Linked DNA regions of Homo sapiens. The protein of the gene in region 2 interacts with the protein of the main gene of each other region in a biochemical or structural test. Each region holds a gene or a part of one and is shown on either strand. Other genes may lie near its edges.

Evidence for each region. Proteins that work in one complex are often made in the same cells at the same time.
Region 1: the proteins of TRAF3IP2 (region 2) and UBE2V1 form a complex in vitro, tested with the Homo sapiens proteins (one study listed by BioGRID).

Annotation. Positions count from the first base shown.
Region 1 is NC_000020.11:50,103,138-50,110,162, forward strand, and holds part of UBE2V1 (ubiquitin-conjugating enzyme E2 variant 1), read right to left. Parts: intron 5,975-7,025; exon of another isoform or gene 5,836-5,974; intron 1,355-5,835; exon of another isoform or gene 1,237-1,354; intron 1-1,236. UniProt on the Homo sapiens protein: Has no ubiquitin ligase activity on its own. The UBE2V1-UBE2N heterodimer catalyzes the synthesis of non-canonical poly-ubiquitin chains that are linked through Lys-63.
Region 2 is NC_000006.12:111,602,857-111,610,443, forward strand, and holds the start of TRAF3IP2 (E3 ubiquitin ligase TRAF3IP2), read right to left. Parts: upstream 3,023-7,587; 5' UTR 2,920-3,022; intron 1-2,919. UniProt on the Homo sapiens protein: E3 ubiquitin ligase that catalyzes 'Lys-63'-linked polyubiquitination of target protein, enhancing protein-protein interaction and cell signaling. Transfers ubiquitin from E2 ubiquitin-conjugating enzyme UBE2V1-UBE2N to substrate protein.

The DNA of each region.
Region 1 (7,025 bases), on a different chromosome or scaffold from region 2:
ACTTCATCTGTTTTGTTCACTGCTGAATCTCCAATGTGTCAGGGTGTTTTGCCCTCTAGAGTAAGCACCCAAATACTTATTGAAAGAATTAATGAATGACTAGGTATTAGCTAGGAACAGTATTTCAGAATGAACAACGCTCAATGTCACAAAATTCTAATCTGGTTTATTTTTGAAAATACAAGAGAGAAACATTCACAGCACCATTATCTGGGAGTCTAACATTATAAGGATTATTAAAGGGGCTTAGTATGAATTTTAAAGCCTAAGAACAGTTATATATTAAGAGGCAGAGTCCCACTCTGTTACCCAGGCTGGAGTGCAGTGGTGTGATTTTGGCTCGCTGCAACCTCGGTCTCCTGTGTTGAAGTGTTTCTTGCACCTCAGCCTCCCAAGTAGCTGGGATTACAGGCGCCTGCCACCACGCCCAGCTAATTTTTGCATTTTCAGTAGAGACGGGGTTTTACCATGTTGGCTAGGCTGGTCTCAAACTCCTGGCCTCAAGTGATCTGCCCGCCTTGGCCTCCCAAGGTGCTGGGATTACAGGCATCAGCCATTGCACCCGGCCTGACTATAATAATTTTAAAAGCTATAAAGCTTAATTAGAAGCCAGGCAGTCAGGAGAGGCCCTCTCAGAGACCCCGGTCCCGGTCCCAAACACCTTTACTTCCACACAGGCATGTGTGGTATGTTTTCTTTACATTTGATTTTCTTCCTTTTTTATTGTCTGACTCACTCTCTAAGTTTCTCAAGTCAGAGCTGTGACTCATTCAATCCCGCCTCCCCAGAATCTGGTATGCTGTCTGGCATATAATGATACTCAATATCAATAAATGTTTGCTGGTTGAAGAAATGGCAGTATCAGGCCAGGCGTGGTGGCTCATGCCTGTAATCCCAGCACTTTGGAAGGCTGAGACAGGCGGATCACGAGGTCAGGAGATCGAGATCATCCTGGCCAACGTGGTGAAACCCTGTCTCTACTAAAAATACAAAAATTAGCTGGGCGTGGTGGTGCGCGCCTGTAATCCCAGCTACTCGAGAGGCTGAGGCAGGAGAATTGCTTGAACCTGGGAGGCGGAGGTTACAGTGAGCCGAGATCGCGCCACGGCACTCCAGCCTGGCAATAGGGCCAGACTCCGTCTCAAAAAAAAAAAAAAAAAAGGCAGTATTTCCTATTGTAAACTCTAATCTACTGGGTCCAAAATATTGGACACTGTTGCCATATAATTAACATACCTGGCTGGGCGCGGTGGCTCACGCCTATAATCCCAGCACTTTGGGAGGCCGAGGCGGGCGGATCACGAGGTCAGGAGATCGAGACCATCCTGGCTAACACGGTGAAACCCCGTCTCTACTAAAAATACAAAAAATTAGCCGGGCAAGGTGGCGGCTGCCTGTAGTCCCAGCTACTCGGGAGGCTGAGGCAAGAGAATGGCGTGAACCCCAGGGGGCGGAGCCTGCAGTGAGCCGAGATTGCGCCACTGCACTCCAGCCAGGGCGACAGTGAGACTCTGGCACAAAAAAAAAAAAAAAAAAAAAATTAACATACCTAAGGTTTTTTATTTTGAGATAAGTAAAATTTGGTAACCATTTCTAATTTATTTTTAGAGATGGAGTCTCACTCTGTCACCCAGGCTGGAGTGCAATGGCGCAATCTCGGCTCACTTCAACCTTCACCTTCTGGGTTCAAGCGATTCTCCCGCCTCAGCCTCCCGAGTGGCTGGGATTACAGGCACGCGCCACGACACCCAGTTAATTCTCATATGTTTAGTAGAGACGGGGTTTCACCATGTTGGCCAGGCTGGTCTCAGACTCCTGACCTCAAGTGATCCACCTGCCTCAGCCTCCCAAAGTGCTGGGATTACAGGCATGAGCCACCACACCCAGCCTAGTTTTATTTTTAATAAATGAGAATTTTAGGAAAACTTACCATTTTTTTTAAAATAAGGGAAAACTGGTTTCTCACCCAAATCACATAAGTCAAAGAATTCTTCACTATAAAATGAACTTTGTTTCATAAAGTATGTATGAAAGCAAGTTACTAATATTTCAAACCATTTAAAAACTGCATACAAAGTTACATCAATATTTTCTACAAAACAAAAGAGCATTTAATTCCAAATGGCCTAATCACACCCTAGTTATAGAATTCAGGGTCTACTCCAGGGACATAAGTCCAAATATGGTTGGAATTCAGAGATCCTGCAGACTTCAGGATGTATCAGTGACAAGCGAAAAGCTCATCCTATCCTAAATAGAGTTTAAATTCAAAATCACGGTACATTAAACAAAACATTTTAGTGAATATATTAAAAAATTAAACGTACATATGCCAAAGAACAGAAGCACAACAGATGAGAAAACCCAAGAATACTCTAACATATGTTTTGGTCCTCTAGCACTTTAATCAATTGAATCAACATAAAATTTTAGGATTCCCAATATTTCTGTGTGAATCTGACACCAAAAAGGCAGCTGGAGAAACAGCATCAAGTGACAATATGGAAGACATAAAAATGGACTCTTACAGGCCAGGCGCAGTGGCTCACACCTGTAATCTCAGTACTTTGAGAGGCCGAGGTGGGAGTTTGAGACCAGCCTGGCCAACATGGTGAAACCCCATCTCTATTAAAAATACAAAAATTAGCCAGTTGTGGTGGCACATGCCTGCAATCCCAGCTAATTGGGAGGCTGAGGCATGACAATCACTTGAACCCGGGAGGTGGAGGTTTCAGTGAGCTGCGATCATGCCACTGCAGCCCAGCCTGGGCAACAGAGACTCGTCAAAAAAAACAAAAAACAAAAAAACAAAAAAACAAAAAACAAACAAACAAAAGGACTCTTATAATCTTGCAAAACCAAGAGAACTACAGGCTCTATAATAGCTAGGAAGTACACTAGGAAAATCTATAGCTAATGATAAGTATAATCAAATAGACTATGACTATTAAAAAGTGAATTATGAAAATGCTAAAAAAAAAAACTTCATCAAGGTGCTAAAATATCACAGTAATCCAAGACTTTTTGAAGAAAATATTTGTTCCTATTATTTCAGAATTATTCTTTCCAGAAGGCTTTTTCCTGGACCTGTGTCAGTATCAAAAGTCAGCCGGTTATTCTCTTAGCTAAATATAAACTGAAAAGACAGCAGTTGCAGGATATTACAAAGAAAATATGGCAACCAGGTTGAAAAAGCATGAATATTTGATAGAGCTTTACACCATGCCACAGTAAAACATTTAATGCAGTAATCTGAAACACAGCAACATATTAATATATTTGTGGTACAAAAAGGATTCTGAAGTCGTTTAAAACATCTTTTGGGAAAATCATGGCCACCAAGCAGCAGCTACCACAGCATGTCAATCTTGGAAAACCCTGGCCTAGGTCTTGAATTAAAATGGTAGAGCTGGCTGGGCGTGGTGGCTCACACCTGTAATCCCAACACTTTGGGAGGCAGAGATGGGTGGATCACCTGAGGTCGGGAGTTCGAGAACAGCCTGACCAAGATGGAGAAACCCCGTCTCCACTAAAAATACAAAATTAGCTGGGCGTGGTGGCGCATGCCTGTAATCGAGCTACTCAGGGGGCTGAGGCAGGAGAATCACTTGAACCTGAACCTGGGAGGCAGAGGTTGCGGTGAGCCAAGATAGCACCATTGCACTCCAGCCTGGGCAACAAGAGTGAAACTCTGTTTCAAAACCAAAAACAACAACAACAACAACAACAACAACAACAAAAAAAAAAAAACAAAAAAAAGGTAGAACCTCAGAGGTTTCTCCTGAAAAGAAAGCTGCTAGTTAAAAATGGTTTGGTTGCCCATTCAGGGAAGACAGTGAACTGAGCTAGGAATCTGATGCTGCTCCCACTTCAGAAAATGAGGAGGTATGGAAGGTGATGCACTGGGATTCAACGTCCCTGAAAACTGGACATAGAGCCATAAGCAAGTAACTTTTATTTCTGAGCAACCGCCCAAGTGTAGTCTGGCTGTCTAGTTAGCCTGCCCAGGAGATCTGTTCTTCTCCTTCTCTAGAGCAATGGTTCTCCAAGTTAGTCCCCAGACCTCATCGCAAACTCGCTAGAAATGTACATTCTCAGGTCTTCAGCCCAGAATTCCTGAATCTGAAACTCCAAGGTTGGGCCTAAGAATCTGACAAGCCCTCCAGGACTCTGAGGTATACTAGTTTGAGATCCATTGCTCTAGGGGAATTCTAGGGAAAGAATTAGTAGCAAGCTGTCATTCTTTACAGTCCAGCCACGTGACAACAGCTAGTGACAGAATGCAAGACCCTGTGTTCTGCTGCTAGGGTCAGTGACCAAGACCAAGCATCAGATTTTCTTTGACAAAGGGGGAAACAAGATGTGGGAAATGAGTCAGGACAACTGGAGAAGGGGAGGATGGTTAATTCTACGATCAAGTACCTCTATAAATACCACCAAATAAGGATAAGAGTTTCAGTTTTTTGAAAGGCTGAATAGCCACTTTTGCTTCTGCCCTATCGGATACATTGTTTCTCCACAAATTGTCAAATGTATCCATTTGGCTACATCAAAGAGATTCTGAATTAACTCACTGCAACATTCACAAATATTTACTGAGTACCTACTATTTTGTCCAGAACTGTGCTGGTGCTAGGGACACAACAGAAGTTGAGATAGAATCTTGCCCTAGTGAAAAGGCATAGAAAATATGCAACGAAACAACACTTCAGGTAAGGTTAAGTGCTTTAGAGAAACAGAACAAAACAAGAAGCTGTGACAATGACTAAAAAACTATTGAATGGAGTGCTCAGGGACGGCCTTTCTGGGTAGCTGCGACCTGAAGAACAGCAGTCAGGCCCATGAAGATCTGGGGACAGAGCAAGATCAGAGGTGTGTGACACCACATGAAGTCAAGGCGGCAGGGCCTTGTGGGCCATGGAAAAGGGATGGGTTATTCTGTAATAAGAGCAGTGGGAAGGGCTTGCTGAAGGGGAGTGGCAGTTTCTATTTTACGTCTGTGAAAGATCATTCTGTCTCCTGTATAGAAAATGGAAAGGGCAAGACTGAAAGCAAGAGGCTTTTTCCATCTTCCAGGCAAGAGAAAGACGGTTCTGGTTAGATTAGGATGACAAGAGTGGAGACAGAAAGGAGGATTTGGCATTTAGTTTGGGGTTACACCTACTGGACTTGTGACAGGGTGGATGTGAAGATGAGGAAAGACTACTACTTGAGAGGTCACTGCCATCTACCCATGAATAAGCTAATCAGCCAAGGCAGAAATAACAGACATGCCAATGGCTGAAGATGCTTGCGAGGCCTACCTCAGAGAATAAGAAATGGGGGCTGGAAGAACGATCATCCGGCCAAGAGCACGTGTCCTGAAGCAACACCATCCCAGAGCACCCAGGCTCTGCACCTCAGGCTAGTCACTCCTCTCCTGGCCTGTTTCCTCACCTTCACAATCGATACCTGCCTCAATGGGCTGTTGTGACAAGTGAGATAATGTAGTTAATACAGTGTCTAGCACTTAGTAAACCCAAGAGTGCAACTTAAAAAGAAGTCTGATGGCTTGCATGTAAATAAGGATGAGGTACTACTTTGTACCTGCCATGATGGGGCTCCAAGCCCAAGAGGTGTGAGTCATTCAGTATAAAATATAAGCAAGAGCTTCCTGAAAAAAGGACCTCACTCTCCTTGGACAGCACATAACCCAGAAGAGGACAAACAGTGGCCAGAGATGCTATAAAAAGGGTTCCTGAAACGGGTAGCAGTAGACACTTCTTACTAAAGCCCTTTCTCTCTCCAAGATTAAACACTCCAAGACTTAGGAAGAACATATCCCTAAATCCATGCCTTTTCCATTTCCTGCAGGCTGGTGAGGGAACAGGAGTTAAAAATGCCTGGGCTCTAGTCCGAGCATCACCAGTCTCCCTTGGCTTTTGGCTCCTCCCTCAGTAATGTGGGTGGATACTGCCCCTGGCTGGTGACCAGGCTGTGGAGAGTTAGATGAGACAACATCACAGGTAAGTCGAAGTCTATGGGACACTCTAAAGCACTATCCACAATACAACAGTAATAGTATTCAAACATTTACTTTGCCAAATGTGCTGCTCTGAACTTCACTGTGCCCCTTCAAAATTAAGCAGAGGATTCCTGACTTCATATTTTGTATTCTACTTTTACCAAATTACTGCAGAGCTACAATTTGTGGGGAGGTGGGAGGGATAGAGATATGAAGAGAAAAGAGAATGTGGTGGGGGAAATAGAGTGGTTTTCAGTTAACATGAAGGGGGAAAATCATGATCATCAAAATTAACCTTGGTAATCCCTTAAGAAAATAATAGCTTGCAGCCCGGCACGGTGACTTACGCCTGTAATCCCAGGACTTTGGGAGGCTGAGACGGGCGGATCATGAGGTCAGGAGTTTGAGACCAGACTGACCAACATGGTGAAACCCTGTCTCTACTAAAAATACAAAAATTAGCCAGGCGTGGTGGCGCGTGCCTGTGATCCCAGCTACTCAGGAGGCTGAGGCAGGAGAATCGCTTGAACCTGGGAAGCAGAGGTTACAGTGAGCCAAGATCACGCCACTGCACTCCAGCCAGGTGACAGGGCGAAACTCCGTCTCAAAAAAAAAAAAAAAAAAAAAGCTTGCACTAGCCCAACAAAGCCAGTTTCCCCTCCATCACTGGAGCAGGCTGCTATTTCTTTGGCTGAGCACAATATGAAGCTGTTCTTTGAATGTAGGGCCCATGTTGTACAAAAGGCACTTAATTACAATTGGCATAAGATGCTCACACAGTGAGACATACAGGAACTGAGAAGAACTAAGGGACTGTGAGTTTTCATCCATTTCCAGCTCTCTCTGGGGAAGACTCTTGAATGGAAGGGAAGACTAATCTCTGCTGCCCACATGGTTAAGTTTTTATAAGCTGAATGTGCATATGAGGCCACTCCGATGTATGCAAATTTAAAATCATGCCCCACCAGGGCTTACCCCTCTGGCACTCATTTTCTGATTAAATGTCAGGGAAGCTCGTGGG
Region 2 (7,587 bases):
GCAGCCTCAGTCTGTGGGGTGCGGCCTGTGGGGTGCGAGGAGAGGGGCACAGGCTGGGAGCTCCGGTCAGTCCTGGCCCTCCTAAAGGGCTTGAGTTCAGCTGCCTTATCAGGGAACCAAGCCAAACCAGCACAGACCTAAGGATCACCCCATGGATGGAAGCCCACCCTTCTTCAGCCAGTCTACAACTCCTGGTATCCGGGAAGGTCTGTGCACACACAAGGTGTGCACACACACACACACACACACACACACAAGGCGTGCACACACAGCTACAGAGTGAGCTGAGTAGTCACAGCCAAGCACATGTGTGCTTCTAGGAGGCCTGCTGGGCACGGGAGGCAAAGACCATAAGTGGGAGAAAGGACAGCCTGAGTTTCATGAACTAAAAATATCTTGGTGACAACGCATTGGGAAGAAACAGGAGAGGCCCGGGGGGCAGCTTCTTGATTCCAGTCCTCAGACACTTTCTCATGGAAAAATCCTTCAGACTGCAGGATTGTTTTGATAAGGAAATGTGATCAAACATTAGGGGTCATTTCATTGGATCTGAAAGGAATTTAAAGTTGAATATGCCTCATCTGTGTTCACTCTTTTTTTTCTGCAGCAGTTGCCTGCAATTCATATATGTTTTTAGAAGCTAATTTAAAATTGCCTGCAGAAGAAAAATGATTTGAATTCAGGATATTCCTGAGATTTCCATTCTACAACGTGTAAAACAAAGATTTCATTTAGACAAACTACCCCACCATAATCTTTCTGAATGCCTGTTGAAGAATGCCTGCAGATATGACTGTCTTCTCCTCTTCTTTTTCTTTTCAGAGCATTTGAAAGTCACTAACTCCTTAATCCCAGGAGAAGCAGGCTTTAACATTTCCTGTCTCTACACCTTCCAAAAATGAGTAACCCTGAGTTAAGAACCTTTCTATCCGACATGTTGGTACATTACTCAGACCTCACTTCTGTTTAACCCACCCCATGCAAGGAACAGAGCAGAGTAACTACATTATCCATCTTTTGATGCTCCATCATGGAGTGACTGGTAGCTGCAGCAGCAGATTAAGAATGACTGTGGTGTGTGGCCTTTAAGGATTAGAGCGAGGCTGGCAAGTGCACAACAGTTAGCCTGCTTTCAGATAATGGTGCATCGTTGTTTGAAAATAAAATCAGGAACTCATTGCAGGTGAAATATCTTGAAATTCCTGTCCTTTCATCCCAGGGGAATAGAGAGAAATGCCTAAAAACATGACACGGACTACACCAGGACATCCCACAGAAACCAAAAGTCCTGCACCAGCCCATCCCAGTCAGCTAGGGCCTGTTTGAACTGTATTGATGGCAAGTAATTGCCAAAAAGAAACAATGACAATTTTTTTTTAAGTCACGGTCTGGAAAAAGTTAAGGATTCTGTGTATCCGCCATCTAATAATGTCTCTAATCACAGTCATCACCCTTACATGGTATTAGGATGTGTTTCATAGTTTCCCTTCCCCTCCCATTAAAGGCCCCACACACAGTGACTGGTCCAGCTGAGGAGTGGTTTCCAGGTCCAGCTACAGCAGTAACTCTGGCTTCTGGAGCTGGGCTTGTCTGCCAGTTCTCTGGCCTGCCTTGACTCTGTGGACAATAGCACAGACTATCCTTCCTGGGTAACCCAAATGGGACATGAACTAATTCGAGAAACTCCCTGTTTTCTCCTATTTGGCTAGAGCCAGTAATAAGGCCTCAATTCCAGGCAGCCCTCCCGCAGAGACACGTGTCTCCCAGCCTTTCGCCCTGACTGCTGCTTTACCTCTTGCCTTGAGAGCAGACGAGTGAAACAGAAATCAAAGCAGTTGACATGGAAGGGGGGTGAGCACCTACTAGGCATTTGGTAGCATGCTGGATTCTGGGAGGTAGAAAAATATCAGGAAACAAAGTCCTTTCCTCAAGGGGGTAACCAACTGGTAGTGGGAGGTAAAATTAAAATATGTGAATAATCGGTAAACAAAACAAGTCTTGAAGACCACCCATTACCACTACCCCTCTGGGACTATCCTGGCTTTGTTTTATAAGGGAATTTGACACACTCATGTTAGATCACCACCCCCCATCAATTTACTGATGAAGAAATCCAGGCTTAGTGGAGTCAGAGTGAATTGCCTAAGTCATGGAACCACAAGAAGTGAAGAACTTGAAACCAAGTTTCTTGTCCTTTTAAAAAATTTGGCCTCTTGTTCTCCTGTTCCTTTAAAAAAAAAAAAATCCCCCTATTCTAAGATACCATCTTGAACTTGAAAGTCACAAGAAGCTTGATTAGCTTCTAAGATCAAGTTCTGGCATTTCTCCCCCTTGTTCCCAAAGGCTCCGTCCAGCGCCAGGCTGGGAGGGCTGGAGGGCGGCTGCGGAGAGGGGCCGGGAGGCGGCTCACAGCCAGCACAGAGCTCAGCAGAACTTCCTGGCCCAAAAATGTGCTGTTGATTTTTTTCCCCCCTGCACGAAACAAGGATTGAGAAAACTGCCACTGACGTGTTCTGGGGCTGAAAGCCAATTACTTAATCTTTGCCATCCCTGGCTCTCTCTTTGGAGAAGTGGGGCTTGAATTCTTGAGAGAAACTTGTGGGGACACTAAGTACCCAAACGAATGGTTCCCAGGCAGCTCCGAGCTGTCCCCGTGTGCGAGCCTCCTCTCCTCAAAGGGTTAACCCGGCGGGGCTCGCTGGCCTGAAATACTATACTAGCAACACATCCTTGCAGCACAAACTTCACTGTCATTTTCTCAGCTAAGATGGTCTCTGTGCGAACAAGTTAAAGGAGGGGAGACGAACACAGAGGAAAGTAGAGGCAGAATGTTTCAGTAAAGGAGAAACAGCGTGCTTTGGGAAATAGGTCAGAGGTGAAGAAATAAGACCAGGCAAGTGGCAACTCCGAATAACTTACCTTAGATCCACCACGGACAGACAGACTGGGCCCGGAGGGTAGTCGGCTCTCGGCGGCTTCTCGTCTCCCTCCACCTTCTCCGGGCCCAGGTAAGTAGAAGAACAGGCTCTGAAGCAGGAAGTGGAAGCTGTATGCAAATTTCTACGGAGCCTAGGAAGCCTCTGCTCAAAATCTCCCTGTGGGCAGTGAATCAACGGCTGAGGAGTCACTTTATTTCTTAAAACAGAAACCTCCTTCATTCATGAGAAAGGGCCAGTGACCAATTAGGCGGCATTTTTGTTTTCGCCACCCAGCTAAGAAGCTGCCCAGGAGTGGGCAGAACCTCAGTGTAGTCGCAGTGCCCTCGCCTGGGAGGGTGTCTCCGGGAGGAGATTGAACTCGAATGTTAAGAATTAGTAATCATTAGCAGCTCCAAAGGAGGGGATTGTGGGCAGATAATGGGGAAGAAGAGGGAGTCGAGCTTCTTCCACCTCCTCTAACTGCTTAAAACATCAGCATTGCCGAGCGCGGTGACTCACGCCTGTAATCCCAGCACTTTAGGAGGCCGAGGCGGGAGGATCACGAGGTCAGGAGATCGAGACCATCCTGGCTAACAAGGTGAAACCCCGTCTCTACTAAAAAATACAAAAATTAGCCGGGCGTAGTGGCGGACGCCTGTAGTCCCAGCTACTCGGGAGGCTGAGGCAGGAGAATGGCGTGAACCCGGGAGGTGGAGCTTGCAGTGAGCCGAGATCGCCACTGCACTCCAGACTGGGCGACAGAGCGAAGACTCCGTCTCAAAAAAAAAATTTAAAAAAACCCAAAAAATCAGTATTTGCTGCCCATAACCACTGGGGGGGTGGGGGGGGGCTCACTGACCATGCTCCTGGACACACGTGTACACACAGCATACACATGCCTGTGGCTTGTGCACACACACCACCCTATTGTCAGGCACAAAAAAAGTGGTTAATTTTAAGAACACACACACACACATACATACACATGCACACATGCACACTAACCTCCTCTGGCTGCATTTTCCTGACCTCAAGATTTTTTTTCTCCCCTTTCCTTCCCATTGTTTAATCAGTAGCCTGCAGAATTTATTGCATGAAGGAGCGCTGCAGGCAGGATGATACCCAGCGATGTGAACAGAGAGAGAGAGAGACAACTGCCTTTCGGGGCAGCAGTCAGTAATGGGAGCAGTGTTAGCTGGAGCTTTGGAGTCAGGAGGACCTGGGTACGAACTCAGCCATGTCACTGGCCAGCTGGGCGCCCTGGGCAGACACACCATGCTCCTGGTGCTGGACTTGTCTGCCTGTTGAAGGGGTCCAAGTGTCAGTCCACTCAGCCGGCTATCTCTCTACTCTCATCAAGGGGACAGGCCCCAGAGCATCCCTGTTCAGATTGTACCAGGTTCTGCTCAAGCAGGATACAGGAAGCAGGTTGCTCAACATTCCACAAGCAGAGAAAATGCAGCTTGTTTTTAACACAGTATACACAGGTTGTTTGCATTTGGTTTGCAGAAAATGATGCAGCTATTAAAAATCATCAATATGTATGTATTATCTGAGCCACTAACATGAAAAAGTGGCTCTGAGATATTATTTAACTAAAAGTATTATCTTATTTTTTGCCAATATATGTGACATATACACACACATAGATATGTATATCGATTTTTTTTAAGAGACAGTGTCTCAGTCTATTGCCCAGGCTGGAGTGCAGTGGCGCAATCATAGCTCACTGCAGCCTTGACCTCCTGGGCTCAAACAATCCTCCTGCCTCAGTCTCCCGGGTAGGTGGGACTACAGGTGCACACCGCCACACCTAGCTAATTTTTAAATTTTTTCTAGAGACAGGTCTCCCTGTGTTGCTGAGGCTGGTCTTGAACTCCTGGTCTCAAGGGATCCTCCCACCTTGTGAGCAGCAAGCCACCCAGGTGCCGAGGCAAGAGACCGAGGACACGAGCTGTTCCAGTACAATAAAATATAAAACAAGAATAGTTATACCAGATATAGATCTTAGATATGATTATATATGAATATCATTAATCATTAGTTTGTAGCAATTACTCTTTATTCCAATATTACAATAAACCTTGCTCTATAATCATAACCTAGGAAAAACCAGGCCATACGAGATAAGAGCTGAGGGGACACAGTGAGAAGTGACCAAAAGACAAGAGTGCGAGCCTTCCGTTATGCCCAGACAGAGCCACCAGAAGGGCTCCTTGGCCTAGCGGCGATGCCAGCATCTGGGAAGACGCCTGTTGCCAGGCGGACCGTGGTCTAGTGGTAGCGAAAAGCGTCAAGGAACAACACCCGCTACTTAGCAGACGGGGAAAGGGGTTCCCGGGGGAGTTTAGAAAAGACTGCCCCTCCACCTCTTGTGGAGGGCCTGACAGCAGTCAGCCTTGCCCACAGTTATCCGGAGGCCTAACCGTCTCCCTGTGATGCTGTGCTTCAGTGGTCACGCTCCTAGTCCGCCTTCATGTTCCATCCTGTACAGCTGGCTCTGCCTTCTAGATAGCAGTAGTAAATTAGTGAAAGTACTAAAAGTCTCTGATCTACAAAAATAATGGCATAAACTGTCTTTCTCTTTGTCTCCTCTCTCTCTCTGCCTTGGCTGCCAGGCAGGGAAGGTTCCCCTGTCCAGTGGACACGTGACCCACGTGACCTTACCTATCATTGGAGATGACTCACACTCTTTACCCTGCCCCTTTTGCTTTGTATCCAATAAATAACAGCGCAGCCAGACATTCGGGGCCACTACCGGTCTCCGCGCATTGGTGGTAGTGGTCCCCGGGGCCCAGCTGTCTTTTCTTCTATCTCTTCGTCTTGTGTCTTTATTTCTACACTCTCTCGTCTCCACACACGGAGAGAGACCCACTGACCCTGTGGGGCTGGACCCTACACCACCTCAGCCTCCCAAAATGCTGGGATTGCACGTGTGCCTCACTGCACCCAGCCCAACATATAGATTTGTGTTTGCTCACCACTGGGCCCCAGGGGACCTAGCACACTGCCCTGCCTAGGACATTGTGGGCAATCACTGTGTATCTGTTCAGTGACCAAGTTAGAAATATCTGGAAAGATGTATGCCAAACTGTTTAGTGGTGCTCACTTCAAGGGAATGCGATTGAGGAAAATAAATAAGGATAGAGGGCTTTATGATATATACATATGGACTATTTGATTCTTTTTTTCACAATAACATGTAGGACTTTTTCATTTAAAAGAATGAAGTTTTTTAAAAAAGTTTTATTACCTTGGCTTTGAAGTTTCTGCTTCAAAATTATTATTAGAGTCATCTTTTGGAGGGTAGGAAAAAATAGCATTTTCTGTGGTCCGGTTGGTACCAGGATACTTTGAGAGAGCTACTGGAGTTAGGAAATGGGAACGGAAAAGCAAAGAAGAATGGCAAGGGGAGGAGCTAGCAGGGAGAGCGAGGGGAGCAGGAATGGAAATATTTTTCATTTCTCTTTGTTGTCCTTAAATGGATTGGGAAAGGCCTGAAGATGCTCTGCCGAGTACCACCTCTGAAATACAACCCGCCAGGGAGAACAAAGGGAAACTTTTCTCCAGTTCTCCACCAACTGTTTTCCTGGGTGTGAGACCTAAGAGCCCTGTAGGAAGAACACAAGTGCCGAAGTGCTGCTTTTCATTGCTGTTGGCTGGGCCTTCCTCTTGTCTACAGTTTGTTTGTTTGTTTGTTTGAAACGGAGTCTTGCTTTGTCTCCCAGGCTGGAGTGCAATGGCACGATGTCGGCTGACCGCAACCTCTGCATCCTGGGTTCAAGCAATTCTCTCACCTCAGCCTCCCGAGTAGCTGGGATTACAGGTGCCTGCCACCACACCCAGCTAATTTTCTTGTATTTTAAGTGGAGACGGGGTTTCACCATGTTGACCAGGCTGATCTCAAACTCCTGACCTCAGGTGATCCGCTCGCCTCCTGTCTAAATTTATCATGAGCAGAAAGGCAGGCACTTCAGGGAATGAGTTCATGGTTCCCTCTTAGAAGCCTCTGCTGGGGCTCCGGGCTGAAAAGCAGCCTGAGGATGGCCACTGTTTAGAGAGGGTGTCCTGAACAGGAGAAATCTCCTCTGAACCTGCCTGAGGCAGTTATGGTGAAGTACAGGTGACCCAGGCGAACACACACAGCTTTTGAATTGCTGTCACGGGAGAGCAACTCTTCACTGAGGACCTACCCTACACTCCCTTTGAGCATATCTCATCCTCCAAACAGTCCTGTGAGGTGTGTTTACTGTCATTCCCACTTTAACTTTGAGGACTCTGAGGCTCAGAGATACTGAGTAACTTCTGCAAGGTCACACAGCTCATCTATGGAGGAGTCAAGCCCAGAGCAGTCTCCCTTCCAGGTGGATGTTATTACTGCCCCCTCCCTGCACCCCGCCACAGCCCCCCAACCCCTACCCTCCATTGCCCTGTTGCCATCTGTTCTTCCTACATGCTTGGGTGGAGCACAGGTAACACACTTTCTTTGCACAACTCTTGACAACGCTTAAGAAGGGAAAAAAAGGTGTAGACAATAAAAGGGTGGGGTTGTGACTGTGCCACAGCCTGGTGCTGTGTTTATATGTAAGGATTGCTGTACAGATCATAAATAGAATAGTCAAGATGTGGGTCAGTCTTCTCTCTCTTGTTAGAAATCTAGAAGGGGAGC